7 linked regions of the Homo sapiens genome follow. The protein of the gene in region 1 interacts with the protein of each later gene in a biochemical or structural test. Each region holds a gene or a part of one and is shown in the gene's direction. Other genes may lie near its edges. The genes, in order: SMAD3, PIN1, RBL1, ITCH, GSK3B, WWP2 and TGFBR1.

What was found.
Region 2: the proteins of SMAD3 (region 1) and PIN1 form a complex in vitro, tested with the Homo sapiens proteins (2 studies listed by BioGRID, with this or other methods).
Region 3: the proteins of SMAD3 (region 1) and RBL1 form a complex in vitro, tested with the Homo sapiens proteins (one study listed by BioGRID).
Region 4: the proteins of SMAD3 (region 1) and ITCH form a complex in vitro, tested with the Homo sapiens proteins (2 studies listed by BioGRID and IntAct, with this or other methods).
Region 5: the proteins of SMAD3 (region 1) and GSK3B form a complex in vitro, tested with the Homo sapiens proteins (one study listed by BioGRID).
Region 6: of the proteins of SMAD3 (region 1) and WWP2, one has a biochemical effect on the other in vitro, tested with the Homo sapiens proteins (2 studies listed by BioGRID).
Region 7: the proteins of SMAD3 (region 1) and TGFBR1 form a complex in vitro, tested with the Homo sapiens proteins (2 studies listed by BioGRID, with this or other methods).

What each region holds. Positions count from the first base shown.
Region 1 is NC_000015.10:67,159,602-67,163,101, forward strand, and holds part of SMAD3 (mothers against decapentaplegic homolog 3), read left to right. Parts: intron 1-3,500. UniProt on the Homo sapiens protein: Receptor-regulated SMAD (R-SMAD) that is an intracellular signal transducer and transcriptional modulator activated by TGF-beta (transforming growth factor) and activin type 1 receptor kinases.
Region 2 is NC_000019.10:9,837,918-9,842,340, forward strand, and holds part of PIN1 (peptidyl-prolyl cis-trans isomerase NIMA-interacting 1), read left to right. Parts: intron 1-94; coding exon of another isoform or gene 95-158; intron 159-518; coding exon 519-731; intron 732-4,423. UniProt on the Homo sapiens protein: Peptidyl-prolyl cis/trans isomerase (PPIase) that binds to and isomerizes specific phosphorylated Ser/Thr-Pro (pSer/Thr-Pro) motifs.
Region 3 is NC_000020.11:37,085,622-37,090,044, reverse strand, and holds part of RBL1 (retinoblastoma-like protein 1), read left to right. Parts: intron 1-922; coding exon 923-1,056; intron 1,057-4,423. UniProt on the Homo sapiens protein: Key regulator of entry into cell division. Directly involved in heterochromatin formation by maintaining overall chromatin structure and, in particular, that of constitutive heterochromatin by stabilizing histone methylation.
Region 4 is NC_000020.11:34,439,394-34,443,816, forward strand, and holds part of ITCH (E3 ubiquitin-protein ligase Itchy homolog), read left to right. Parts: intron 1-761; coding exon 762-951; intron 952-2,814; coding exon 2,815-2,910; intron 2,911-4,423. UniProt on the Homo sapiens protein: Acts as an Acts as an E3 ubiquitin-protein ligase which accepts ubiquitin from an E2 ubiquitin-conjugating enzyme in the form of a thioester and then directly transfers the ubiquitin to targeted substrates.
Region 5 is NC_000003.12:119,912,565-119,916,987, reverse strand, and holds part of GSK3B (glycogen synthase kinase-3 beta), read left to right. Parts: intron 1-813; coding exon 814-944; intron 945-4,177; coding exon 4,178-4,284; intron 4,285-4,423. UniProt on the Homo sapiens protein: Constitutively active protein kinase that acts as a negative regulator in the hormonal control of glucose homeostasis, Wnt signaling and regulation of transcription factors and microtubules, by phosphorylating and inactivating glycogen synthase (GYS1 or GYS2), EIF2B, CTNNB1/beta-catenin, APC, AXIN1, DPYSL2/CRMP2, JUN, NFATC1/NFATC, MAPT/TAU and MACF1.
Region 6 is NC_000016.10:69,764,832-69,769,254, forward strand, and holds part of WWP2 (NEDD4-like E3 ubiquitin-protein ligase WWP2), read left to right. Parts: intron 1-4,423. UniProt on the Homo sapiens protein: E3 ubiquitin-protein ligase which accepts ubiquitin from an E2 ubiquitin-conjugating enzyme in the form of a thioester and then directly transfers the ubiquitin to targeted substrates.
Region 7 is NC_000009.12:99,107,718-99,112,140, forward strand, and holds part of TGFBR1 (TGF-beta receptor type-1 isoform 1 precursor), read left to right. Parts: intron 1-3,091; exon of another isoform or gene 3,092-3,151; intron 3,152-3,609; exon of another isoform or gene 3,610-4,423. UniProt on the Homo sapiens protein: Transmembrane serine/threonine kinase forming with the TGF-beta type II serine/threonine kinase receptor, TGFBR2, the non-promiscuous receptor for the TGF-beta cytokines TGFB1, TGFB2 and TGFB3.

The sequences.
Region 1 (3,500 bases):
TACATAACCTTTACCCCCAAAAAAGTTTCCAAGTGCACCTTGGTAATTGCTCCCTCCAATCCCTACTCCCTCCCTGTAACTCCCTCTGTCCCCAGGCAATGACTGATCCCTGCTTTCTGTCACTAGATTAAGATTAGTGTGCCTTTTACTTTAGTTTAAATTACCTTATAATTTTACACGAACAGAATCATGCCTGGCTTCTTTCACGCAGCATCATTAATTTAGATTCATTCATAGCGTTGCATGTATCAGTAGTTGATCCTTTTTTGTTACTGAGTTGTATTTCTTTGTATGGATATGTTATGGCTCATTCATCTGTTAATACATGTGGAGTAGTTTTCAATTTGGGGCTATTACATTCATGCACAAGTCTTTGGACATAGGCTTTTATTTCTCTTGGGTAAATACTTTGAAGTGGAATGGTGGATCATATGGTAGGCTTATGGTTTTTTAGCTTTTTAAGAAACTTCCAAATGTTTGAGGGATGAATATCCCAATTACCCAGATTTGATCATTACACATTGTATGCTTGTATCAAAATATCGCAAGTACCCTATAAATATGTATAGCTACTGTGTATCCCCCAAAATAAAATATTTTAGAAAGGAACTTCCAAGCTGTTTTCCAAAATAGTTGTACCATTTTACATTTGCACCAGCAGTGGAAGGGAGTTCCAGTTGTTCCACATCCTTGCCAATACATGGCATGATCAGGCTTTTTAATTGTAGCCATTCTAATAAGTATGTAGTCCTATCTCATTGTAGTTTTAATTTGTGCTTCTCTAATGATCAACATTGTCAAGCATCTTTTCATATGCTTGTTGTCTTCATATCTTTCTGGGTAGTGTCTGTTCAAATCATGTATCTCTTTTTTAAAAGATTGAATTGTTGGCTGGGCGCAGTGGCTCACGCCTGTAATCCCAGTACTTTGGGAGGCCGAGGCAGGCGGATCACGAGGTCAGGAGTTCGAGACCATCCTGGTTAACACATGAAACCCCGTCTCTACTAAAAATACGAAAAATTAGCCGGGCGCGGTGCCAGGCGCCTGTAGTCCCAGTTGCTCGGGAGGCTGAGGCAGGAGAATGGCGTGACCCCAGGAGGTGGAGCTTGCAGTAAGCCAAGGTTGTGCCACTGCACTCCAGCCTGGGCGACAGAGCGAGACTCCATCTCAAAAAAAAAAAAAAAAAAAAAAAAAAAAAAAAAAAAAAAAAAGAAGATTGAATTGTTAATATTGAGTTTTCAGAGTTCTAGAAACAGGTCTATTATCAAATATACGCTTTGCAAATATTTTCTCTTAGTTAGTGCTTGCCTTTTTATTCCTTTAACAGTGTCTTTCAAAGACCAGAGGCTTAAATCTTGATGCGGTCTGATTTTTTTTTTATTATTATTAAGTGCTTTTTGGTGTGGTATCTGAGAAATCATTGTCTATCCCAAAAAGTCACAAAGATTTTCTCCTGTTTTCTTCTAGACATTTTAGAGTTTAAGTTTCACTTCAGTTTGTTTTTGTATAGGGTTACAATGTGTAGTTTGAAGATTATCTTTTTTACATATCCAGTTGTTACATCACCATTTGTTGAAGACTGTCCTTGCTCCACTAAATTGTCTTTGGACCTTTGTTGAAGCCAGTCGTCCATATATATGTAACTATTTCTGGACTCTGTTAGGTTCCATTGATCCGTTTGTCAGTCCTTGTGCCATTACCATACTGCCTTGATTATTGTAGCTCCCTTGTTTTTAAAAGTTTAATTAATATCCAAGTGATTCATGTATGATTAATATTACTACTAAGGCAAGAGGGCCACCCACTTCTATCACCTAGATGGAGCTTACCTCCACAGCCCCATTCTCCCCCGCTGCTGGCATGAGCTTTTCTCCAAGGCCTTCTCTTGCAGAGGAGGCTATGATGTCCAGCTGGCCCTTTTTTGGGAGTTTTGTCAAACACCGAAGAGCAAATACGGCCACTTCCCTAATCTGTGGGCACCCAGTGGCTTTGCAGGAGAAGGAGAACAGCTGAATAATTCTCTATTCCCACTCACCACTTCCCACTCTCCCTTTTACTCCTGTTCAACCTCCAGCTCACCCTACTTATCCAGGGCTGGGTTTGGGGAGTATCTGCTGTGATAGAGAATAATAACGCTAATTTGTGGGTGTTTATGAAGCACTTTCAAATGGAAACCAAGCTTCAGGAGGTCGGGGGGCAGAATACCCCATTTTATAGATGAGAAAACTGAGTGTCCTAGGAAGCTCATGAGCTGCCCAGTGTCTCCCAGCTAGGAGAGTAGAACCCTCCTTTACCCCAGGTCTTATGGCTCCACATCCGCCAGTCCTCCTTTTATACCTCAGGGACGAGTCCCAGGCTGTCTTCTCGATCTGCCTGGTAATTACTGTTTTTCAGCTGTAGGGCTTCCTTGTTCTGGGGCCCCAAGGGAGGAAGGTAATTACATCCTTCAAGATGCCCTTAGTCAGCAGCTCCAGGTCAGTTCCTGTGACCAAGCCCAGCTATGACCTTTGTCTGTCCTTTCCCCTTCCCAGGCCAGTGGCTTGGAGAGTGTGATTGGATCCCTCTGTTTCTCTCTTTGGTTGGTGCTGTTGGTGGCATCTGGCCAGCCCTTCCTTCACAGAGTGCCCATGAATTCTCTGTATTCAGGCAAATGGGTGCCCTCGGTCATAAGAAGGCACAGAGGGAAAGCTTGCAAATGTCTCACTGCCAGCCCTGCCAGCTATTAGAAAAATTATGGCACTGACTGGCAGGGTCCTAGGATGGGCCTCCTTGAAGAAAAAGCAGTCCTGCCTCTTAATAGGGTACCTGTGACTCATGAGCATCCATCTCATCTGCTCCCCACTTCTATCCCTGCTACCCGCAATCTGTTGGTCACACGTAGCCAGAGTTCCACAGGGCCTGTCTCTTTCACACGTATGCACAGCCCACTTACACATCTCAGAGGCTACATACTGCTTTTAGAAAACAGGAGAAGCCTTTATCATGGCCTTTGGGGCCCTGCAGAGTACCCCTGCCTGCCTCCCCGGCCTCGTCTCAAGCCAGCTCTCTCTCATGATCCCCTCTCCAGTCCTTCTGGCCTTCATTCTGTTCTTCCGACCTCACCATGTTTTCCACTTTCCACAGGGCCTTTGTGTGTGCCTTTCCCTCTGCTTGTACTGCCCTTCTCCCGCACCCCTTTGCCTGGTTAGTTCTTACTTACCCTTTAGGCCTTCAGGTCAACCATCACCTCCTCTGAGATGCCCTGTCCAGTCCTTCAGCAAAGTGGGGTGCCATGGTCATACACTCTTGGGGTTCCTTGTTATTTTCGTTCAGGACACTTTCATTGTGTGTAATTGTAGGTTTCTGTGATGATGATGATGATGATGATGATGATGATGATGATGATGATTTGAAACGGAGTCTTGCTCTGTCGCCCAGGCTGGAGTGCAGTGGCACAATCTTGGCTCACTGCAACCTCCCCCTCCCAGGTTCAAGTGATTCTCCTGCCTCAGCCTCCTGAG
Region 2 (4,423 bases), on another chromosome or scaffold:
AGCCACCGTGCTTAGCCCTTTTAAAAATGTTTAAAAATTATTATTTAGTCCTTTCAATGACCCTAAGGTAGGAACTGTTATCTCCATTTTGCAGGTGAGAACACCAAGGCCCAGGGAAGATATATCACATTTGAACCCAGATTCAGATTTGAATCCAGGTGGCCTGGCTGCTGAGTGCATGGTTTGAGTCACTCCCTGTCCCCCAGCTTCCTCTGTTCCATCACTCTGGGTTATTTTCCTCCTTGAAGTTATCAGGGATTGATACTATCCTGTGTTTCATTTGCTTGTTTAGCACCTGTCTGCTCTCACCTAGAATGTTAGCTCTCTAAGGGCAGGGACTGTATCCTGCCACATTGGCCCACGTCTGGAGAGCCTGTGGCACATGGTGGATACACCATGGATTTGTTGAATGAAGGCGCCCCCTGCAAGCCAGGCCCTCACCCTGGCTTCTGGCTGTGGGCCCAGGGGTGTCCTGGGAGCACAACCCTAGCTGAATTCCTGCCTGCCCTCCCCTCCAGGCCGAGTGTACTACTTCAACCACATCACTAACGCCAGCCAGTGGGAGCGGCCCAGCGGCAACAGCAGCAGTGGTGGCAAAAACGGGCAGGGGGAGCCTGCCAGGGTCCGCTGCTCGCACCTGCTGGTGAAGCACAGCCAGTCACGGCGGCCCTCGTCCTGGCGGCAGGAGAAGATCACCCGGACCAAGGAGGAGGCCCTGGAGCTGATCAACGGTGAGCAGGGCGAGGGCAGGGGCTTGGGAGGGGGTCTTCTCCCAGGTGAGCCTTTGTAGAAGTCACATCAGACCCTTCACCCCAGCTTGCTCAGCTGCCAGGCGTGGTGTTGGCCAACACAAAAACGCCAGTGCATGACCTGACCCTGACCTTCACAGCAGCCATTCTCTTTCTTTTCCATCTGGCATTTGAGGGTGAGCCAGGTAGGGGCAGAGGACCCAGCCTGGGGGCTGGCAGACATGGGTTCAGGTAGTAGCTGTGCCTCTGTGAACTCTGTGACCTTTGGGAGGGGACTCGTGTCACCTCCCCTAGACTCAGCTTTCTCTGTAAAATGGGCATCCTCTAAGGACCATTGTGAAGGTTCAAGGGAATAAGGCAATGGATTTTGCACAGTAGGCCCTCAGTCTGTGGGAAGTGTTGTCAATAGTAATATCATCCACTAGGGGCCTGAGTCATAAACATAGGTGGATCCAGAGAGAGCAGTCAGGAAGGTAGTGAGTGCATGCAGGGTGCGGTGGCTCACGCCTGTAATCCCAGCACTTTGGGAGGCCTTGGAGGGCAGATCACCTGAGGTCAGGAGTTCAAGATTAGCCTGGGCAGTATGGTGAAACTCCATCTCTACTAAAAATACAAAGATTAGCCAGATGTGTTGACGCATGCCTGTAATCCCAGCTACTCGGGAGGCTGAGGCAGGGAGGCAGAGGTTGCAGTGAGCCGAGATCGCACCACTCCACTCCAGCCTGGGCAGCAAAGTGAGGCACCATCTCAAAAAAAAAAAAAAAAAAGAGGTAGTGAGTGCCAGTAGATAGTGAGTTAATTCTGACCTAAGGGAGGAAGCTATTCCCTGCTCTGTTCTGTGTTTCCTCTGCAGTCTGGCACCAAGGTGGCAAACTTTAAAGGCCAGATGGTAAATATTTTAGGTTTTGTGGGCCATGCAGTCTCTATCAGCTCTGCTTTGTAACTGGATAGCACTCATAACTAATATGTAAGCAAGCACATGGTCATGGCTGTGTGCCAAGAAAACTTTACTATTTACAAAATCTGGGAGGATTTGGCCTGCAGGCCATCATTTGCAGAGCCCTGTCTAAAGCTGTCCAGTTTGGCTGCCACTCCCACCCTGTGCGGGAGGATCACTTGAGCCCAGGAGTTTGAGACCAGCTTGGGCAACATAGCAAAACCCCGTCTCTAAAAAAATAAAAAAATTAGCTGGACATGGTGGTGCACGCCTGTAGTGTCAGCTACTTAGAAGACTGAGGTGGGAGGATCCTTTGAGCCCAGGAGGCAGAGGTTGTAATGAGCCGAGATCACACTACCGCACTCCAGCCTGGGTGACAGAGCAAGACCCTGTCTCAAAAATAAATAAGATAATATCAAAAATTGGTTTCTCAATTGCACTGGTCATACTTTAGCTGGTGGCTGCCATCTTTGACAGCGGGAATATAAAACATTTACATTCTTGGCCGGGCGCGGTGGCTCACGTCTGTAATTCCAGCACTTTGGGAGGCCAAGGTGGGTGGATCACGAAGTCAGGAGATCGAGACCATCCTGGCTAACACGGTGAAACCCTGTCTTTACTGAAAATCCAAAAAAATTAGTCTGGCATGGTGGCGGGCACCTGTAGTCCCAGCTACTCGGGAGATAGGCAGGAGAATGGCATGAACCCGGGAGGTGGAGCTTGCAGTGAGCTGAGATCGTGCCACTGCACTCCAGCCTCGGCAACAGAGCGAGACTCCGTCTCAAAAAAACAAAAACAAAAACAAAAAAAAACACTTTTCCATTCTTGCAGTAAGTTGTGTCTGATGCCTTTCTCAGAGTCCCCAAACCTGGGCTGTCCCTACTCCAAACAACCCATCTCTCAACCATGCCCAGACAGCCTGGGTTGCTATGCAGCTCTGCCACGTCCTGGCTATGTGCTCTTGAGCAAGTTACTTAACATCTCTGGGCTTCAATCTTTTTCTCCTTCTTCTTTTGAGACAGGGTCTTGCTCTGTCACCCAGGCTGGAGTGCAGTGTTCATAGCTCACTGCAGCCTCAACCTCCTTGGGATCAGGTGATCCTCCCACCTCAGCCTCCCAAGTAGCTGGGACTGCAGGCTCATAACACCACACCTGGCTGATTTTTGTATTTTTAGTAGAGACAGGACTTCACCATGTTGCCTAGGATGGTCTCAAACTCCTGGCCTCAAGTGATCCTTCCACCTCAGCCTCCCGAAGTGTTGGGATGACAAGCATGAACCACCGCCCCCAGCTGTCAGTCTTTTTCATTTATAAAATTAGTATTAGAATAATAAGACCCACTTCACAGGGTAGTTGTGAGGACTCCTGGCTAATACAGTAAAGCGGGAGTAACAGCTCCTGGCATCGGTAAATGTTCTGTCATTGTTAGTGGTCACTGTCATTGCTGTTGTTGGTTGTGGTAGCACAGGGCCCAGCACAGAGTGTACACTCGGTCAGTATTGGCTGTTGTTTTACTCTCTCATCACTTGGTCCAGTTGGCCTGTAGGATGTTATTACATATGCACACCCCCAACATGGCATCTAGGACAGTAAGTGCCACCCGTTAGTCTTATATGTAAGCATGGCAGAGAGAAGCCGAGTTCTTGCACAGAATCTTGAAGGCTGATTGAAGAGCCAGCCTCCTGACCTCTGAGGGCAGGGACTGGATCTCTCTCTTTCCCCTGTATTCCCATCCTGCCACACAAAGCCTGGCCCAGAGTCAGCCCTCACAGCCTTGTTTCATGAGCCAGTAGGAAGCAAGAAGGATTCCTGGCACAGGACGGGGCAGAAGTAAAGGCCTAGGACTAGGATGTAGCCAGAACTCTGGGGAAGGCTTTGCAGGGAGCTAGGGGGTGATGAGACCCTTCACGGGCAGGTCCCAGCCAGGTTGAGGAGGGTCCTTGTCAGGTGAGGAGGTTTGGTTCTTTCCTGGAGGCAGCAGGACATATGTGGCCATGTGGGACCAGGAGAGGAACCCACAGTGCTCTGCTTTCAGCAGAGATCTGTGAAGCTAGAATGTCAAGGGCCAGGGAAGTGGAAGGCCCAGAACCTTCAGGGGTTCTGGTTGCCCCAGAGCAAGAAGAAGAAGTGGAGGGAGAAGCCAGGAGAGAATTGCAAGATGACCCTTCAGGTCCTCCCAGCTCTAGTGGTCTCTGTTCTGAGGCTTCCGGACCCTATAAGAGTGAGCAGGAGGGTGCAGGCATTTGGGGATGGAGCGGCATGAAGTGGGCTCCTGGGGGTCAGCAGAGCAGCCAGGCGCAGGACAGAGCTGCTCCAAGCAATCCTGATGAGAGCTGGCAGAAGGCTGAGGTCGGTGGGGATAGTGAGGAGGGCATGGGTCTGGGTGTGGTGGGCGAGGGTGTCTCGCCCATCTCTGGGTTGGACAGGTGCACCTGGTAAGTAGCCAGGCCCTGAGGCGTCACCGTAGGTACCTGCAGATTCTGGAATGTCAGCAGGAGCCTTGCCTGCCCACCTGGTGGAAGCTGTGGGAGGAATTGGAGCAAGAGGCGGTGTGACTTGAACTTGGGGGCTGGAAGTGGAAGAAGAAGTGAGAGGGAGCAGACCCGAGAGAGATTCAGGAGGCAGGATAGAGAGGACTGGGTGATGGATTAGGTGGGCAAGGGTGGGATGTCTGGGGGAGGGTCAGGGCAGAACAGCGTGGCCCACCCTGGGCTCGTACAGGGCTGGATTTCAGTGC
Region 3 (4,423 bases), on another chromosome or scaffold:
AGTGTCCCTGTGTTGCCCAGGCTAGACTGTAGTGGCACGATCTCTACTCACTGCAACCTCTGCCTCCCGAGTTTAAGCTATTCTCCTGCCTCAGCCTCCCAAGTAGGTGGGACTACAGGTGCATGCCACCACACCCAGCTAATTTTTTGCATTTTTAGTAGAGACGGAGTTTTGCCATGTTGGCCAGGCTGGTCTTGAACCCCTGGCCTCAAGTGATTCACCCGCTCCAGCCTCCCAGGCATGAGCCACCGCGCCTGGCAAGTATTATAATCTTAAGTGACCACCATTGTATATGTGGTCCAGTGTTGACCAAGATGTTATGTGGCATATGCCTGTATTAGATTTGGAGTGTAGGTGAAAGAGTTTTTTTCTTTTTTTTTTTTTTAAGAGACAGGATTTAAGAGACAGGATCTCGCTCAGCTGCCTATGTTGGAATGTAGTGGCACAAACATAGCTCACTGCAGTCTTGAACTCCTGAGCTTAAGCGATACTCTTGCCTCAGCCACCCAAGTAGCTGGGACTGCAGGCAAGCACCACCATGCCTGGCTAATTTTTTTATTTTCATTTTTAGAGTCTACGTTGCCCTGGCTAGTCTTAAACTCCTGGCATCAAGTGATACTCGCACCTCAGCCTCCCGAGTTACTGGGATTACAAACATGAGCCACCAAGCCAGGCTTTTATCTTTAGATTAATATTAATTTAGCATGTTATAGTTGTAAAAACACAGAACTAAGAGTAAGGAGTTTTATACCCATTACTGCAACTAACAGCTTTGTGACCTTGGGCAAATATCTTCACTTCTCTGGCCCTTTATCTACATAAGGAAAATTGAGACCAGATAATTCTACATCTCTTGTTTCTAGAATTAAAGCATTTTAACATAATATTATACCTGTTTTGCTGTTTGTCTTTTGCTTGCCAGGGAGAAGTTACACACTGGTTGGCATGTTCATTATATGTTGCATGCCGCAAAAGCATTATTCCCACGGTTGGAAAGGGTATCATGGAAGGCAACTGTGTTTCACTTACCAGAATACTACGTTCAGCTAAATTAAGGTAAACCTCTTTGATGTTTTTAAATGTTATATAAGCTCTAAATTTTGGAATCAGTTTTCTCTTGTTTTGAGATCATTTGACTTCATTTAATTTTTATTTTATTTATTTATTTATTTATTTATTTTTGAGACGCAGTCTCACTGTGCCAGCCAGGCTGGAGTGCAGTGGCACAGTCTTGGCTTACTGCAATCTCTGCCTCCTGGGTTCAAGTGATTCTCATGCCTCAGCCTCCTGAGTATCTGGGATTACAGACACACACCACCAAGCCCGGCTAATTTTTTGTATTTTTTTTTTTTAGTAGAGATGGGGTTTCATCATGTTGGTCAGGCTGTTCTCGAACTCCTGACCTCAAATGATCTACCCACCTCAACCTCCCAAAGTGCTATGGGATTATAGACGTGAGCCACTGTGTGACTTCATTTAATTCTAAGTTATAACATAGATAATCCTTTCCCAATTTTCATATTCTTTCTCTGCCTTTCTCAAATTCTGCTAGAAACCTCTGTGTTGAATCTTTAGCTATACTTTTTAAAATTAATTTTTTAAAATTTGGAAATAATTTTAGGCTTACAGAGAAGTTACAAAAATAAGAAAAGGACAATACCCATATACCCTTGACTCAGAGTCACCTGTTATTGACATTTTATCCCATTTGCTTTCTCATTTGATTTTTCTTTCTTCAATATATAGATCTTTCTCTCTCTCTCTTTTTTTTTTTTTTTTGAGATGGAGTTTTGCTCTTGTTGCCCAGGCTAGAGTGCAGTGGTGCAATCTCAGCTCACCACAACCTCTGCCTCCTGGGTTCAAGCGATTCTCCTGCCTCAGCCTCCCGAGTAGCTGGGATTACAGGCATGTGCCACCACGCCTGGCTAATTTTGTATTTTTAGTAGAGACGGAGTTACTCCATGTTTGGTCAGGCTGGTCTCGAACTCCCGACCTCAGGTGATCCACCCGCCTCAGCCTCCCTAAATGCTGGGATTACAGGCGTGAGCCAGCACTCCCAGCCAGATCTTTCTCTTTTTATCCTCAACCATTTCAGTCTAAGTAGCATACATTTGTAGCCTTTTACCCCAAAATACTTCACTGTGTATTTCTTTAAATAACTACAGTACAGCTACCAACTTCAGCAAAATTAACACTGATAAAATAATTTTATTTAACCTGCTAACTCTGTTCTAGTTTTGTTAGTTGATTCAATAATGTTCTTTATGGCATTTTTTTTCCTGGAAGTACAATTTCTAATTAAGGATCAGGTATTGCATTTGCTTATCATGTCTATTTATTCTTCTGTAATTAGGAACATTTCCACAGCCTTTCTTTTTCTTTTATGACATTACCATTTTTGAAGAATATAATCCACAATCACTTTGTCCCTTTCTTTAATTAAAAAAAATTTTTTTAGAGGCCGAGTCTTGCTGTATTGCCCAGGCCTCGAGTGCAGTGGCACCTTTTTAGCTCACTGCAGCCTCAAACTCCTCAGCTCAAATGATCCTCCTGCTTCAGCCTCCCAAGTAGCTGAGACTACAATCATGTGCCACCATGCCTGACTGATATTTTTAAATCTTTTTATAGAGACAGGGTCTTACTATGTTGCTCAAGCTTGTCTCAAAGTCCTGACCTTAAGTGGTCCTCTTGCCTCAGCCTTTTTTTTTTTTGGGACAGAGTCTCACTCTGTTGCCCAGGTGGAGTGCAGTGGTGCAATCTGGACTCGTTGCAACCTCCGCCTCCCGGGTTCAAGCGATTCTCCTGCCTCAGCCTCCTGAGTAGCTGGGACTACAGGCATGTGCCACCACGCCCAGCTAATTTTTGTATTTTTCGTAGAGATGTGGATTCACCATATTAGCCAGGCTGGTCTCAAACTCCTGACCTTGTGATCCGCCTGCCTCAGCCTCCCAAAGTGCTGGGATTACAGGCGTGAGCCACTGTGCCCACCCTCATCCCCTCTTTTAATAGATGGTTCCCAATTTTGGATTTGTCTCCTATTAACTTTTGATTAGATGCAGGTTAGTCATTCCCTGATGGAAAACTGTATAAGTGATTTTGTCTCCTGAGGATATCACATCTGATGATGGCATGTGTTATCCATCTGCATCTCATTGGTGATGTTAATTTTTGTCATCTGGTCAAGATGTTGTCCTATTTCTCTACTGTATATTAATTTTTTTCACCTTGCAGCTACTCTATGGGTCTCAGATACATCTTTTACTTACTCTAGTATCAAGCATATAGAATTATTTGGCTGGATAGGAAACAAAACAAATTTAGCTATCCAGTTTGGATTCATGCTAATATTCTTTGTTTCTGGGACAAAACTATTTGTGGTCATTGTCTATTTGCTATTCCTGTGTTTCCAGAATAGAAGAGGAGCAAAGTTTAAAGCCCTATTCAGAAATGGCAAATAGGTTTTAGTTGATGCTAAATTTAAATTTTTTTTTATTTTTATTTTTTGAGACGGAGTTTTGCTCTTGTTGCCCCGGCTGGAGTGCAATGGCCTGATCTCAGCCTCCCCAGTAGCTGGGATTACAGGCGCCCGCCACCACGCCTGGCTAATTTTTTATATTTTTAATAGGGAGAGGGTTTCACCATGTTGGCCAGGATGGTTTCAAACTCCTGACCTCAGGTGATCCACCCGCCTCGGCCTCCCTAAGTGCTGGGACTATAGACGTAAGCCACCGTGTCCAGCCTAAAAAAAATGTTTTTAAACAACTTTGGTTCTAAAAATAAAATAAGATGATAAAAATTAAATGAAGATCAATGGGGTTAATTTTTTAATTGAGCAAGACATTATCATTGTTAGTATAAAACAATCTGATCTTTTTCTGTCAATGTTTGTCATTGTTCATATAATTTCAAAAATCTTTGTAATGACAGATTCTGGGGGAACTAAACAAAAAAGAATTATAACAAAACAAATGTAGAGCAGTACATGGCAGGAGAATCACTTGAACCTTGGAGGTGGAGGTTGCAGTGAGCTGAGATAGCGCCACTGCACTCCAGCCTGGGCGACAGAGCAAGACTCCATTTCAAATTAAAAAAACAAGGCTGGGCGCGGTGGCTCACGCCTGTAGTCCCAGCACTTTGGGAGACCAAGCCGGGTGGATCACAAGGTCAGGAGATCGAGACCATCCTGGCTAACACAGTGAAACCTCATCTCTACTAAAAATACAAAAACAAAATTAGCCAGGTGGGCGCCTGTAGTCCCAGCTACTCGAGAGGCTGAGGTGGGAGTATGGCGTGAACCCAGGAGGCGGCGCTTATAGCGAGCCGAGATTGCGCCATTGCACTCCAGCCTAGGTGACACAGTGAGACTCCGTCTCAAAAAAAAAAAAAAAAAAAAAAAATCAAATTTCAAATAATGAAACAAACT
Region 4 (4,423 bases), on another chromosome or scaffold:
TCCCGAGTAGCTGGTACCACAGTCATGAGCCACCAATGCCTGGCTAAATATTTATATTTTTTGTAGAGATGGAGTTTTGCCATGTTGCGCAGGCTGGTCTGGAGCTCCTGAGCTGAAAGTGATCCTTCTGCCTCGGCCTCCCAAAGTGTGGGAGTTACGGGCGTAAGCCACTGCAGCCACATCTTCCCCTTTTATAGATAATTTGATTAATTGTATATTCTGAGTCTTTAAGATGTCTTTATTATAATCTTGGTGACTTCCTCTAGACATTGTTTTGTCCACAAGTATTTCTTAAAGGTGTAATGTATGACTACTAACTATCTGTAAGAATGTTATTTCTTATCAGACCTTCCATATTATAACCAACATCAAAAATTGGTCTGTAATCTGCACGGTTTCACAGGAAAGCAGTTTTAAGGAGCTGGAAAATTAATAAATGAACTTAAAATACCAAGGAATATTAATAATTTCCTATTCTAAAAGTTTTTATTTCCAGTGACATCAGAAGATCAGAGAACCTGTACATGCTTCGTGATTAGTAATGGGACATAGGGGTAGACAGGACCGAAAAAGTAAACAAGCCTATTAACTGGCAGCGTTGGTTATTTCCCATTACTTATTTCTTTAAGTAATTTTCACCTGTGCATCTACATCTTAAGTTTTATATTTATCATCTGCCTTTTATTTTTTACAGTTAAAATTCTATCCTGAATTTTAGAAAATGAAAGATTCTTTTCCTATTTTCCCCAAATCTTTTATAGCATCTGTCAATGGTTCACCATCTGCCACTTCTGAAAGTGATGGGTCTAGTACAGGCTCTCTGCCGCCGACAAATACAAATACAAATACATCTGAAGGAGCAACATCTGGATTAATAATTCCTCTTACTATATCTGGAGGCTCAGGCCCTAGGCCATTAAATCCTGTAACTCAAGCTCCCTTGCCACCTGGGTGAGTAACTTTTTAAATTAACATATGTTGTCTTTAGGATTCTTCATAAGCCTACTTATTAATAAGGAAAATAACAGTAAACAACAGTAAACTCCATTGTTTTGATGACTGTTTTTTAATTTCTTTTTTTTTTGAGATGGAGTGCTCTGTCTCCCAGACTGGAGTGCAGTGGTGTGATCTTGGCTCACTGCGACCTCCGCCCCCTGGGTTCAAGTAATTCTCCTGCCTTAGCCTCCCTAGTAGCTAGGATTACAGGTGTGCACTACCAAGCCCGGCTAATTTTTGTATTTTTAGTAGGGGATTTCACCATGTTGGCCAGGCTGGTCTCGAACTCCTGACCTCAAGTGATCCGACCACCTCAACCTCTGAAAGTGCTGGGATTACAGGCATGAGCACCCAGCCAACTGTTTTTATGTTATTGTAACTGATTTTGGGGGATCTGGAGTCAAAATGAACAAGGAAAACACACCATATTTGAAATCTTCAGGGCAAAGTGGAAAAATATATTTTTTCATCAAAGGACCCTGAAAGTTAACCAAGGCCAATTAATAAAATAATCACCTAATTCCAATTGCCTTTTTCTTTAAGGGGGAAAAAATCCCTTTTTAATATCAAACTATTTTTTTCATCAGAAGATCATTATAGGCTGGGCATGGTGGCTCACGCCTGTAATACCAGCATTTTGGGAGGCCGAGGCGGGCTGATCACCTGAGGTCAGGAGTTCGAGACCAGCCTGGCCAACATGCTGAAACCCCATCTCTACTAAAAATACAAAAAATTAGCTGGGTGTGGTGGCAGGCGCCTGTAATCCCAGCTACTCGGGAGGCTGAGGCAGGAGAATTGCTTGAACCTGGGAGGCAGAGGTTGCATTGAGCCAAGATCTTGCCACTGCACTCCAGCCTGGGCAACAAGAGCAAAACTCCATCTTGGGGAAAAAAGAAAAATCATAGCAAAGTGATAGATAATTCAGAAAACTGAGAAAATTTGTGCTCATAATCCCATTTTAATCTCTCCTGATTATTTTAAGATTATTTTCATAGATTGTTTTTAAGATACTCAGGTGTAATTTTTTCTTGTTTATTTTTTGTTTGTTTGTTTGAGATGAAATCTTGCTCTGTTGCCCAAGCTGTAGTGCAGTGGTGGGATCTTAGCTCTCTGTAACCTCCGTCTTCCGGGTTCAAGTGATTCTCTTGCCTTAGCATCCTGAGTAGCTGGGATTACAGGTACCTGCCACCATGCCCAGCTAATTTTTTTTTTTTGAGATGGAGTCTCACTCTATTGTCCAGGCTGGAGTGCAATGATGCAATCTTGGCTTACTGCAACCACTGCCTCCCAGGTTAAAGTGATTCTCCTGCCTCAGCCTCCTGAGTAGTTGGGACTACAGGTGCCCACCATCATGCCCAGCTAATTTTTGAATTTTCAGTAGAAACGGGGTTTCACCATGTTGGCCAGGCTGGTCTTGAACTCCTGACCTCAAGTAATCCACCCGTCTCAGCCTCCCAAAGTGTTGGGATTACAGGTGAGAGCCACTGCGCCTGGCCATTTCTTTCCACTCAAATCCTGATTATACCCTGATTGAGAGTGACTTCGGTATCCTAGGTAGACGGACCTCAAGCCTCTTCAGGAATATGTTTTCTCCTAGAGCAGATACTTGCATAGAAGAAATTGAATTCACTGTGTGCCACTGCCTGAAGATTACATTTCTTCACTTTATTCCTAAATTGTATTTGTATCATCTTTCTAAACTGATGTCCTTATTTGCCTTAGTTCAATAATGGTCATTTAATGGAAATGCAAAGACAGGATTAAAAAGCCAGGTAACTCATGCAAGTATTTTACCAGCCTTTTAATTTTGTATTTAAGTTGGGAGCAGAGAGTGGACCAGCACGGGCGAGTTTACTATGTAGATCATGTTGAGAAAAGAACAACATGGGATAGACCAGAACCTCTACCTCCTGGGTAAGTATCTAAATTTAAAAAGAATAATTTTATTTAGTCAGAATTGTGGATTACAACTGTATAATCTTCCCTACATTTCTGTTTTACTTTTTCTTGTCAGCCCTTTCTCTGTCCACTTTGTTTTGTGGTAAGTACAAATTAAAAAGAAGAGAGCTAGACAACTGATTAATTCAGAGCCTGATAAACAATTTTTGTTTTCACGCATATTTCTTTCTTCTTTTCTTTATTTTATAGAAACAACATCTCGCTATGTCGCCCAGGCTGGTTTTTAACTCCTGAGCTCAAGCCATCCTCCCGCGTTGGCCTCCCAAAGTGCTGGGATTACAGGCGTGAGCTATCATGCCTGGCCCTATTTTCACTCATTTCTGACCTAAAGATTCCTTAGGTGGGCTGGGCGCAGTGGCTCACGCCTGTAATCCCAGCACTTTGGGAGGGCGAGGTGGGAGGATCACGAGCTCAGGAGATTGAGACCATCCTGGCTAACGTGGTGAAACCCCGTTTCTACTAAAAATACAAAAAAAAAAAAGCCAGGCATGGTGGCGGGCACCTATAGTCCCAGCTACTTGGGAGGCTGAGGCAGGAGAATGGCATGAACCCAGGAGGCGGAGCTTGCAGTGAGCCGAGATCTCGCCACTGCACTCCAGCCTGGGCGACAGAGCAAGACTCTGTCTCAAAAAAAAAAAAAAAATTTCCTTAACTTTTCTTGTCTAAGCTGTTTACCTGTTTACTAATACTGTAGTTTAAGTATTAGTTTCTTCAAGAGTAATTATTTAAATGAATAAGAATTAGAGCCCAGTCATATATTAAAATGAAGTTCTTATTATATTTAAAAAACTATAATAGCAAAATCATTTCAAATTAATTGGGGAAGTTAAGGATATATTAATACATGGTGTTAAGCCTTTAACATTAACATTAACATTACAGTCCAGGCACGGTGGCTCGCGCCTGTAATCCCAGCACCTTGGGAGGCTGAGGTGGGGGGATCATGAGGTCAAGAGATCGAGACCATCCTAGCCAACATGTTGAAACCCCGTCTCTACTAAAAATACAAAAATTAGCTGGGTGTTGTGGCGCGCCTGTAGTCCCAGCTACTCCGGAGGCTGAGGCAGGAGAATGACTTGAACCTGGGAGGTGGAGGTGCAGTGAGCTGAGATTGTGCCACTGTACTCCAGCCTGGCGACAGATCAAGACTCCGTCAAAAAAAAAAAATCATATAAAATAATTGAAGAAAAAATATTTTTTAATCCAGAGGAAAGTCAGTAACAAACATGGAAAAATACTTAACCTTGTTAGTAATCTGAAGGAAATATACCCTGAAAAGGTACTGTTTTAGTTATTAAATTAGCAGATAATATCAAGTGTTGGTGAGGAACTTTACGTTGTTAGTTGCTGCCGGGGCTGGGCACAGTGGCTGATGCCTGAAATCCTAGCACTTTGGGGGGACAAGGTAGGATGGGCGCTTGAGGCCAGGAGTTTGAGACCAGCCTGGGCAGCATAGTGAGACCCCATC
Region 5 (4,423 bases), on another chromosome or scaffold:
AAATTATACTCTCTTCGTCCATGAAGTTTCTCTCTCCTCCAGTCAAGAGTCTGATTCTTTACTCCATGCAGACCCAGTTTCTCAGTGTATCTTTTTGGTAAGAAAACTGAGAAAGTCTTCTCTTTTGAAAGATGATGTCAATAGTCAGGCATCTGTTTTTGAATGTCATTTTGAATTATACTTTTTCTGAAGGATATTAACAGGAAGAATGGTGATGCTACTAACAGGGTTATTGATGTCTTGATAGAGCAGTGATTACAGATTTTCTCAGTCCACATGAGTTTTCCTAGACCACTGTATCAATCACCTTGGAGGCTGACATCTCAGAAGAATATTCTAAAGATCACACTTTGGAAATACGTTTACATTCAGCAGCATGCTCTACTAGAAAGAACTATAAACTTAAAAATCAGGAGACCTGGTTTCTGGCCCAAAGTTACTGATTATTCATGATTTGGGGTGCCTCTCTGAGCTTTTCATTTGTGTTTTAAATAAAAGCCCATCTTAGCAGGCTTGTAATGTGAGATGTTAGTAAAATTAAAAGTTATAAAGCACATTGTAAAATTTTCTTCTTTTGAGTTATTAAAGAATGAAGCGAATAGTACATATGGTTAATGACAGTTTAGCTAATTCATATAGAAATAGCTAATTAATACAGAAGTGACACAAAACTTGTGAAAGGAAGATTGAGTGCCAGTAATCCATAGCATTTCACCTGTTCTTTTCTGAGAATCTGTTACTTTATTGACTGCTTAAGGATTCTGATTTGTTTAGAATAGGAAGTATTTAATTAATTTCTACTATCTATTCCAGTTGTATATGTATCAGCTGTTCCGAAGTTTAGCCTATATCCATTCCTTTGGAATCTGCCATCGGGATATTAAACCGCAGAACCTCTTGTTGGATCCTGATACTGCTGTATTAAAACTCTGTGACTTTGGAAGGTAAGCTACTGTCCCTCTCCCTGCCCCTTCCCTTTTCCCCTCCTCCCCCTACTATCTTCTTTTAAATATATTCCTTTTGCAATATCAGCCTAAACACAGTAATTCTTATTCAAGAAGTATAAACTAGTGCAGCTGTGAGAGTAGTTTTGTTAGTTTCTGTCAAAATTATAAATGTATATACTCCTTCATTTAACAGTTTAACTTTTAGGAATTATTTCCTTAGGAATACATATTTACAATACAGTGTATATATAGGGATTTTTATTATAGCATTGTTTATAAGCATCCATTAGTAGGAAAATGGCTAAATAAATTACGGTACATGCAGAGTAATACATGCAACCATGAAAAAGAATGAGGCAACTCTCTGTGAACTGAAAGGGAATGATGTCTAGGAAACATTAAATGAAGAAAGCAAGATCAAGAGTATATGTATTGTATGCCACCTTTTATGTTTTAAAAACATACAGAATGTGACTATATATATATATATGTACACACACACATATATACACAAGTACATGTGTGGCTTATTTCTGAAATGGTACGTAATCCATAATATTTGATTGCCTGAGAAAGGATCTTTGGGAATATAATGTAGTTGGGAAACTCACTTTTTCATTGATTGTATTTTAGTATTGTTTGAATTTACATTAGGTATATATACTCCTTTTTCAGTAAGAACTAAATTTTTTCAAAATATTGATTATTATACATTCCTGTGTATCTTTTTAACTTCACAATTAACCTCAATTCAGGGATGAGATAAAAAACAATGCAGTGTTTTCTTCATTTTCCTCTATAATTTAACCTTTTATTCCACCCTTTTTCCTGCAAATTTCATCAAACTTTCTGCTTTTAAAAGCTCATTTCTTGGTAATATACTGTGAATTTGTAATACAACTTTATTCTTTCCATTTTCAGTTTTCAGTACTTTGTGCCTCTCTGATCTAACCTTTTAACATGTAGTCAAGCCTACATTCCCATGTAACTCAGGCAGTTACCCCGCTACTTCCTCACTGGTGTAATCACCTAATCTCTCTCCTCATGGTCCCTAAGACATCTTTACATAATTTGGATTCTCTCCAATTTAATTTTTTCACCCTTGTTACAGATTCTTTTCACCATAGCTCTATAGATAACATATTGCCCCACACTTGTTAATACCTGTGTTCCTATCCCTTTGTAATACTTTTACATCAATTCACAGTTTAAATTTGGGGTTTAACATAGGATATGTTTTCCACAGGCTTCTCTTGAGACAGATCCTTTAAAAAATAAGTAAATCTGTTCTGTCATGAGTTAATTTTTCTTAGTCTCACAATGTGTCCTCTTTCAGACTGTCCTCATTTTACTGTTTTCTAATTTCAGATGACCTATCACTTTGCAGGCCATGACTCTGTTCCCTGAACTATTTTTAAAAAGGGTGAAAGATAGTAAAACTCTTACCTGGTGTTTGAAACAAAGCACTACTACTTGTCTATAGGAAAAACTGCCCAAATCAGATATGTTTTATTGTTAATGGGGTGTCTTCACCATTGAGAGTGACTGACTTGGTAGGGACAGACTGAGACACCAAGGTTAGAAGAGCTTCTGTTCTCATATAGTGTCAAAACACTTGGTACAGCCCATTCTCTTGGGACATAAAATAGCTTTATTCTGATAAATTTGGAAGAGGGATTTCGCTTGTTTGATAGCTCATTTTTATAAACCCTCTGATTTTTTTGTTTTTAACAAAATTGGTTTGGTCAGATGGAGTTTGGGAAACACTTTGGACTGTACATTATCAGATTGGTAATTTGAACAAAATACTATTACTTTCTTCTTATTTTTTTACTAGATGAAAAGGGGCCAAAAAGTAGCTAAAGAACTAGTTGGGCTATTTAGGAACAAAAAGCTAGATGTGATCACAATATTGGGAAGTAGTTAAAACCAGTCTCCTCTGTAAGAGAGGCTGCTCCGTTTTTGTAGCTCCATCAGGTAGTGAAAAAACTTCAGGCTACAAAGCTTGGGTATTAACGTTTTGTCTCGTAATGAATTTTCTGAACATAATTAGCATCTATCTTGTTAATTAAAAAGCATCCTTTAGAAGATATAACAGTCTCCTATCAATTATGCTGAAAACTAAATGTCATAATTTTCATGCAGCCTAAAAACAGGGATTAGTATTTATTAATTTATGAAATGGTTATTGTATGTCAGTACTTGGGGAGAGGGTTAAAAAACAAACTTCAAAACTAGTGATGAAGGAAAAAGAAGTTAAGGTTAGAGTCATCATTGACTAGAAATAAATGGAAGAAAAGAAATCCCAGTCATTGAAATCCTTGTGACTACTTTCATCTGTCTTTACCCTGGTTTTCCAGTACCTTTACTTTTTTTTTTTGGCACTTACTGTTTTACTGTTTTGATTTTGTTGCATTTTGTCCCTTTATTTATCTTTATTATTAATGTATGTCAGAATGGCTGGCTTCTACAGCAGTTTATTTTATTCTGTCTTTGGATTATCTTGGGCGACATCTCAAAAGAAATTAATTGTAATTTATTATACTTCATATTTAAAATACATGCAATGAAGTATTTTAGTAGGAAAATTGGAATAAGAAAACATGCAATTATACTTACTATAGCAGAGTTAGAATTTATAGGCAGTGAATCATTTCTGCCCTGAAGTTGAAGGGCCTGTTTATAATTTATTGGGTAATAAATGTTTATGTGGTTAATAAATTGACCAAGATATGGAAAAATAGATTGAGTCTATAAGCCTTGAAATATTCGCCGTGAGTCAGAAGTCAAAATGCAAGACAGTGGCCAGTTTCTCACCCTTTTTAAAGAAATACATTGGGTGAGGAGTATTCATTCTTAGAATCCATTGTCATGCTTTTTGGTGGGGGAGGTACCTCTTTTCTGCCCTTGCTTCTTTGTATTTTAGAGGTGGAATTTGGGGAACAGAGGATCAGAAGAAATTCAACACTTATCCTTTTTTGCTTTTGGTGCCTTCTTAGGTGACAAACGCTTTCTTTAAAAATTGCTATTCTTTTTTGCAGAGCAAGGTGATAAAATTGTAAATTTCTTTTATTAGAGATAGTTACAGTTTACATTTTCTTTTTCATATATGATTCAAATGATGTGAATCTTATAAAATCATTTGATACTGTGAAAGGATAGCAGTCTAAGTTCTTTAAGGTTTAGATTTAAAGAATTTCTGCTTTTTATTTTTATTTTTTTTCTGTTAGTGCAAAGCAGCTGGTCCGAGGAGAACCCAATGTTTCGTATATCTGTTCTCGGTACTATAGGGCACCAGAGTTGATCTTTGGAGCCACTGATTATACCTCTAGTATAGGTAAGTACAAATCTGAATATAATGCTCATAATTATTAATTGCTTCTTGATTTTGGTAATTTAGTACTACTAATCTGTACTTTTATTTCCATGGAAAGATGGATATATCCCATAATGTTTTTTTTCTTAAAGCTTGAGAT
Region 6 (4,423 bases), on another chromosome or scaffold:
TATGTTATAGTAAACGATCATATAATGTATAAACATGTATGATAACATTTTGGATTTATTGGGTTAAATACAACGTAATTATAAATAGTTGGTCAGACATGGTGGCTCATGCCTATAATTCCAGCACTTTGGGAGGTCAAGGTGGATAGATTGCTTGAGCCCAGGAATTTGGGACCAGCCTGGGCAACATGGTGAAACCCTGTCTCTACAAAAAATACAAAAATTAGCCAGGTGCAGTGGCGCCCGCCTGGCTACTCAGGAGGCTGAGGTGGGAGGATCACCCAAGCCTGGGGAGGTGGAGGCTGCAGTGAGTTGTGATCGTGCCACTCATTGCACTCTAGCCTAGGTGACAGAGTGAGACCCTGTCTCAAAAAAAAGAAAAAGAAAAAGAAAAAAAGTTTCACCTTTTTGTCTTTTTTTTTCCCACTTAACCTTGACTTGAAACCCAGCACTTTTTTCTTTTTAAAATGTATTTCCTAGAAAAATAAAAAATTATAAATGTGGCTTGCACTTGTGGCTCCCATCTTATTTCTATTGGACAAACCTGTTCTGAATGCCAGGAATATAGCAGTACAAGAAAGGTAAGGATCCCCACCCTTGTGGATCTTCAATTTTATTAGAGAAGGGCACATTGATAACTAAGTATAATATGTATTATGTTGTAATAAAGCAGGGAAGAGGGATGTAGGTTGCAGTTTAAATAGGATCCTGGCCAGGTGCGGTGGCTCACGCCTGTAATTCCAGAACTTTTGGAGGCTGAGACGGGCGGATCACTTGAGGTCAGGATTTCAAGACCAGCCTGACCAACATGGTGAAACCCCATCTCTACCCAAAATACAAAAATTAGCTGGGCTTGTTGGCACATGTGTCTAATTCCAGCTACTCGGGAGGCTGAGGCACGAGAATTGCTTGAGCTCGGGAGATGGAGGTTGCAGTGAACCAAGATCGCGCCACTGCACTCCAGCCTAGGTGATGAAGTGAGACTCCGTCTTGCTTTTGGAGAGATGGGGAGTTGGGGGCGGGGGTTCTCACTTTTGCCCAGGCTGGTCTTGAACACTTGGCCTCAAGACATCCTCCTGCCTCAGCCTCCGAAAGTGCTGAGATTACAGGCATGAACCATTGCACCTGGCTCAGTCTCTTAACTCTAAATACTATCCACATGCTAACAGCTTCCATATGTGTGTCTAGCCTAGGCCTGTCTCGAGACTTCTAGATCTAATTGCCCACAATATCTTCACGTGGATTCCTATCAGGCATTTTATAATCAACATCAACAAAATTGAGCCCTACACCTGCCCCTCAGACAGCCTTCCCCATCTCAGTTAATGACAACTCCATTCCTCCAGTTGTTCAAGCCAAAGACCTTGGAGTCACCCTTGACTCGTCTCTTCCTCTCACACCCCACATCCAACTCAGCTCGTCCACAAAGCCTACTGGCTGTACTTCAGAGTACACCCTGGATGCATCTTTCCCCTGGATGATGGCAACAGCCTCCTAACTTGTCTCCCTCTTCCACCCTGGCTGGCCTTCACTTTCTCCACACAGGACCCAGGGCAAGTCTGTTAAAAGGCAGGGTGGATCCTGTCCACTCCACTGCCCAACTCAAACCCTCCAATTGTCCCAGCTTAACTGGAGTGAAAACCAATACCCTACAATGGCCTGCAAGCCTTCCATGACCTGATCTCTCCTCCCACACCCACCACCACCCTGACCTCCTCTCTCCACTCCTGCTTACTCAATCCCCTCCAGCCACACTGGCCTCCTGACTGGTCCCAAAACCTGCCAGTGGTACTCCTTATTTGGGGCTTTTGAACTCTGCCTGGACCCTTAAGCCCCTATTCAGCCACATGGCCCCTTCCTTCCCTCACTTCCTCAGATCTTTACTCAACCATCACCTTCAGAGAGAGGCTTTTCTAGGGATCCTATATTTTACTTTATTATTTTTGGAGTGTTGTTCTGTTGCCCAGGCTGGAGTGCAATGGTACGATCTTGGCTCACTGCAACCTTCACCTCCCAGGTTCAAGTGACTCTCCTGCCTCAGCCTCCTGAGTAGCTGGGATTACAGGCATCTGCCACTATGTCCAACTAATTTTTGTATTTTTAGTAGAGATGGGGTTTCACCAGGTTGGTCAGGCTAGCCTCAAAATCCTGACCTCAAGTGATCTGCCTGCCTCGGCCTCCCAAAGTACTGGAATAGGGGTTTTGTTTTTTTTTTTTTTAATCTTTTTGAAAACCACAAGCTAATGGGTTTCTTTTTTCTTAATGAGGCTACTCTTCCAACTGTGCATCTTTATAGCACCCCTGAAATCAATTTGAGTGCCAATTTCTGGAATTAGTCTGGCTTCCTGGGTTGGCATCCAGTTTAGGCCTCCAGGATGGATGGATAATGGGCTTTTTATGTTTGAAATATGTATTGGTTTTTTCAAACATGTATTGAATGCATGTTGTTTGTCAGGCATCCCACCATTTTATACATTTAACCTTGTTGAGGTGAAGTGACCCTCACGAGGTCAGATAGCTAAGAAATGAAAGAGATGGCCATTTGAATCTTGGTCTTCAGAGTCCACATCTGGTCCTTCTACCACTTATCATTAGTGAGATGGGTGGAGTGGCTATATAAACATAAACTCCCTTTGGAATCAAATCAGTGAGTTGCTTTTGAGCGACTTTGAGTCCCTTAGGACTATTATGTGTCACAGGCAGAAAGGGAATTTACCAGGTAAAGAAAGGCAGATTTATTAAAGTGAAAACACGTTGCAAGAAAGCAATGGGCAGCACAGCAGAGAAGGGGCTGTCTGCAAAGAGGCAGGAGATGGAGGGAAGTTTTACAGGGTTGTGCTGGAGGGGGCTATGTGGGGATTGATGCATCTGAGGGCTGTTTGTGATTAATCATTTCTCAGAACGACTGTCCATGGCTTTCCCCTACCTGAGGCCCCTTCCTCGTTGTTGCTTACTTATCTTATTAGGACTCCACATTATGGACTCTGAAATTTCTTTTCTTTCTTCTTTATTTGTTTTGCTTTTGAGACAAGGTCTCATTCTGTCACCCAGGCTGAAGTACAGTGGCATGATCATGGCTCACTGCAGCCTCAACCTTTTGAGCTCAAGTGATCCTCCCATCTTAGCCTTCCAAGTAGCTGAGACTATAGGCATGTGCCACCATGCCTAGCTAATTTTTAACTTTTTTGTAGAGATGGGGTCCCACTATGTTACTCAGACTGGTCTTGAACTCCGGGCTCAAGTGATCCTCCTGCCTCAGCCTCCCAAAGTGTTTGGGGTTACAGGTGTGAGCCACCACAACTGGCTAGGGCTCTGGAATTTCTGAAAGATGGGAACAAAAGGGAAGATGTTTCCCCTGGATGATGGGACAGGTTAGATTCTAACCAAAATCTTTTTAGAAGGTTGCAGTTCCCTGTTTTTCACCCCACCGCAGTTTATAGCAAATATTCAGTGATTTAAATCATTACTACTAATAATAACTATTAGGAAAATACCAGCCAGGCATGGTGGCTCACACCTATAATCCCAGCACTTTAGGAGGCCGAGGTGGGTAGATCACCTGAAGTCAGGAGTTTAAGACCAGCCTGGCCAACATGGAGAAACCCCGTCTCTACTAAAAATACAAAAAATTAGCTAGGCGTGGTGGCAGACACCTGTAATCCCAGCTACTTGGGAGCCTGAGGCAGGAGAATCGCTTGAACCCAGGAGGCGGAGGTTGCAGTGAGCCGAGATTGCATCACTGCCCTCTAGCCTGGGCAACAAGAGCGAAACTCCTTCTCAAAAATAATTAAATAAATAAAAAATAACAAGTACCAAGACATGGCAGTCCTGACCTAGGGCCCGTCCTCTTCCTCAAGTCACCCATGCCTTTTGCTTCTTGTTTTGTCTTCAGATCTGCTTTCCAGTCAGCCTCTTTTATTCTTAGCCTGTAATTCCACGGGGCTTCCAATAGTGTACCTCCCTGCTCCCTCCCGTTTTCTCTTTTTCCGTGCTTAGTCTTTGTAAGGATGTCATTTGGCAAAGTTGATTCTGTTTGATTGTTTTTCAATATGGGCCTTTGGAGAATGGAAGGTAGTAACTCAATGCTGGACAGAGGAAGGAGGCCAAGAAAGAAGCATTAGTGTTGGAGTAGCATGAGCCTGTGAAGAACAGGAGAATCTTTTGGACAGAGCTTTTCCTTGCATATCTTTCAAGAAATGAGTGCAGGCTGGGCGCAGTGGCTCACGCCTGTAATCCCAGCACTTTGGGAGGCCAAGGCGGGTGGATCATGAGGTCAGGAGATCGAGACCATCCTGGCTAACGTGATGAAACCCATCTCTACTAAAAATACAAAAAACTAGTCAGGCGTGGTGACAGGCACCTGTAATCCCCGCTACTCGGAAGGCTGAGGCAAGAGAATTGCTTGAACCCGGGAGGTGGAGGT
Region 7 (4,423 bases), on another chromosome or scaffold:
TAGAACAACACTTAGCAGCTTATGATTGGGGCCATCTCTGAGTATCCTACCAGGGATCTCATTTCTCATTACTGCAGACCTTCGAGCAATTTCTCTTTCTCACTGACTCCTGACTGTTCAGCCTTTTCACTACACATTTAGTTTTGCCCCTTTTTTTGGGAGTGCGAGAAGTTCTCAGCCCTGACTTCCTGTGCTGGTTTAGTTCTTGAATTCTTTGTCTTCCAGAACTCTGCAACACTTAACAGTTTGTGTTGTCCATTTCTACTGCCTGTGCTGCTACTTAACTCTACTTGAATGCGTTATAGGTACCCAGAGGACAAGATTCATGCCATTTCTTTCTTTTGTGGCCTCAGAACTTAGCACTGTGTTTTATATTCTATTCCACATAAATGCTTGTTGATTTCTATTTGAGCATTCCTTTAATATTTATACTGTTTTATGTAAGTCCAGTTTATGCAATATTAACTTGTAATTCCGTATAAATAATCAGGAAAAGTTGTATGGCGTGTTGAAAGCAATTGGTTATTTGTCCTACCTTCACCAGCAGTTATGCAGAAAATGGGGCAATACCTACTTTTGCCTAATTCATGAGATTGTGAAGATCACATGAGAAAGTGGTATTTGAGTTTGAGGTTGCTATTCTGTGTTGTTGCTAAAGAGCAGGACTGATGTTCAATAAGCAGTTCCCACTGGGCCATGTGTGTTTTGGTTAAACATCCTTTCTGATTGGTTGGTACCCTTGTAGTGCCAGTTGTTAAATATTTTTAATATCATTTCTATAGGGAGGCATTAGTATTCAAAAAGGGAAATGATTAGTGTAAGCTGGAATGATTGGGGGAGGCTTCTTGGACACTTTAGGACTTACACTGACTTTGAAGGGTGGGTAGAATTCAGAGGGGGATTTGATGAGTGTGAAAGTTCTTTTGAAGTTGTGTCCCCAACTGTCCTGGGGCCTACTCCAAGGGAGGAAACAAGGCTTTTACTGACTGACTGGCAAGTTACTCTTCAGAGTTAGGTTCCTTATTCTGTACTGTGGAATTTGGATGTATTAACCTCTATCATTTTTTCCCCAATCCTAAAAGCTATAGTACATAGCTGGAAACAAAACATAAAAGTAATCAAAGTGGAATGAGTGAGGGAGAATAACATTATGGGATGCCCAGTAGGACTAGGCATTCAAATGGTGGAAGTCCTAAGTATATTATCACTTCAATTTACAGATGAAAAAACGACTCAGGTGAATTTCTTAGGGTGGCACAGGGGCAGAACAGAGACAGGAACTTTGATTTTCTGATTCCATATCTTGTGCCCTATATGGTGCTTTAAAATGTGAAGGACTTGGAGGTGGGAGTGGGACAGGGTTGGGATAGGTGGTTGGCATCCACGAAGGGATGAGTGACTTCCTTAAGTGAAGTAGGCCTTGAACTTCACAGAATTTATGAAAAGTGAATTCTAAAGGTGGAAGGGAGGGGGAATGATTAAAGCCTTAAAGTTCTCAAGGAAAAGGTCAATTTTTTTTTAATTGCTGATAAAAGGACCTGGTATATACTTATTGATTGAGAAAAGTAGGCCTATAGTAGTTTGGAAGATGGTCTTGAGTAAGTACAGTTAATTGAATTGGGGTGTAGTTAGAAGGCTTTGGTTTAGAATATTAGATGATCCGCTTTGTTGTTGAAATTAAGAGAGGAATTGACATAAAAATAATCAAGAGGAAGATAAATCTTGTTCCTGTGAGGAGGGCCGCTCATGTAGGGAAGACCCCTGTCAAAAGGTTCTAGGCCTTAGTTGAGCAGTTACAGGGACTCAACACCATTCTTGTAGTGTCATTTTATTGCACCAAATATGTTCATGTGTAATAAATGGAATTTTGAAAATGCCATTATCCTATGGATGGCCCTTCTGATGTGAGAACGTGTCTCTTCAAACCACAGAGCCCCTTGCAAATGTCGACACACCTCTTGCCTTTTGCAGTTCTTCCTTGGTCATGGCTTACGTAACACAGAGTTCTCTGAACAGATGGACTGTGGTTTGATATCATGTGATTGGGTCACATCTTTGCTTCCTGCTTTTGGAATTGAGGGCAGATGCTGGCATATTTCTCAGGGATTTTTTAATGCTTTGTCCCATAGAACTAGCTTGAGGAAAAGTTTTGGAGTCTTCTCAGAATTTATGGTCAGTTTTGACCCAGCCTAACTCCAATACTTAGGATTACATTTAATGCCATTCTTAGCTGAATTTTCTCAATGTCAAATCCAGGCAGTCTCCATAAACATTAAAATTGTTTACCACTCTGAATTAGATCCAATTTTATGTGTTTTGTTTGCTTTCCAGGTAAGTTTCTTATGGCTACCCTTCTTCATCATGAAGAAAATTGGTTGGTAGACTTGTAATTATTCATCTCAGACATCACTTTCTTAAATACTAGTGGACTAAGTTCAGTTGGTTTTATGGTCCAATTTTATAGATCAGATCAAGTCTTTTATAAAGCTGCTCCCTCAAAGAACAATTTCTAATCTAACTTAAAAAAAATTGACTTGCAAAGTATACACACAGGTTGCTTTGAAATTTCTTGAAGGGTTGCAAGAATATGCTACATATTCTATCTGTCTTGTCTCGTTTAATTCTCTCTTCTCTCTTTTTTTTTCTTTGACCATGGCTAATACGGCATCATTTAGTTCTCATAACCAACCTTGAATGGTAGTTGTATAGAGTACCAAAACTTCTTACTTATTTGCTGCTTAATTTCCAAACTCTTAAGCCCATTTGTTCCCAGATACAGGTGACCAGTGCTCAGAAGATAACTGTAGGTTTTGATAACATCGGCTCTACCCCAAGATTCTTTTCAACTCTAAACATTATCCAAAGGTGTTAGTATTTTTTCATCGTCTAATCGTAAATATATATATAAAAGAAAGACACTGCTTTGAATGGCACAGATGTAGACTAACAGTAGTTCAGCCACTGAGACTCAAATGATTTTGTATTACCATAAACCCCATCTGCCTGGGCAGGCAGAATTGACACAATTTTGCTCAGATTGGAACCTAGTTCATATCTATGAAAGAAGACCCTCTTTGTTTCCATTTTATAGACCAGGAAACTGAAGTTATGCTGTTAATGAAAGGTGGAGCCTTCAGTTAAGCACTCCAGGGTATGTACTCTTTTCCTATACAAATGCTCCTCTACTTATGATGGGGTCACGTACGTCCATGCTCCTTTCATATAGAGTAAATACATTGTTAGAGCCACTTCAGCAGGAAAGTTTCCTTTCCCTTTTTTGCAAACCATGAGAATTTGCTTCAGATTGCCTTGATTACAGTTTTACTATTTCTTTGCAACTGCAGGCCATTCAGATACTAACAGTCTTTCTTTAACATTATATTTTTAGGTAATTTGAATCTTCCTGACGAGTCCAGTGATAGTTGATCACTTACTATTTGTATTGATTTATACATATATTCATAGCAAATTCTTTTCTTCTAAAAGTTACATAAGCACAGGACTGAAAATTTGTATTAGAGAAAGGAAAAAAACCATCACCAGCCATTATTAACATTTGGCATATCCTGCACCCATGCTTTTTTTTTTTTTTTTTTTTTTTTTTTTTTGAGTATAAAAAACCATTCTTGGGCTGGGCACAGTAGCTCACACCTGTAATCCCAGCACTTTGGGAGGCCGAAGTGGGCGAATCACGAGGTCAGGAGTTCGAGACCAGCCTGGCCAACATGATGAAACCCTGTCTCTACTAAAAATAACAAAAAATTAGCTGGACGTAGTGGCAGGCACCTGTAATCCCAGCTGCTTGGGAGGCTGAGGCAGGAGAATCACTTGAACTCAGGAGGTGGAGTTTGCAGTGAGCCGAGATTGCGCCACTGCACTCCAGCCCGGGCGACAGAGTGAAACTCCATCTCAACAAAAACAAACAAACAAAAAAACAGCAACAAACCATTCTTTAATCATTCTATTTCAGCAGTTTATGAAAGCTAATAAAAGTGTTTAAATTGACAAACAGCTTCAGTTTACAGAGGAAAGAGCTTCAGTTTACAGAGGAAATAGCTCATCTATTCTTAGCAAATATTTAGTAGTGATCAACATGATGAGAAATATAGGAAAAGTAAGAGGCAGTCTTGCTTTTGAAAAAATTGATGCTGAGGAAATATGACTACAGACTCAGTACTAGCAACCACAGGGACTGCTTTACAGAGGAGGTAGGACTTGATCTCTCTGCCTTGCAGGAGGATAGGGCTTTGAGTGGATGTGTGGTGGAAAGGAGGCACTTCTTGGCTGGAGAGGATGGCATGTGTGGAGAAAGAGCATTCTAAGTTTCAGGATTTCTAAGAGGAGAAATGGAAGTTCATGGTGTAAAGGGTGGGCTCAGAGAATTATGGGCCTTGAAAATCAGGAGAGTGGTTTTAATGTGGAA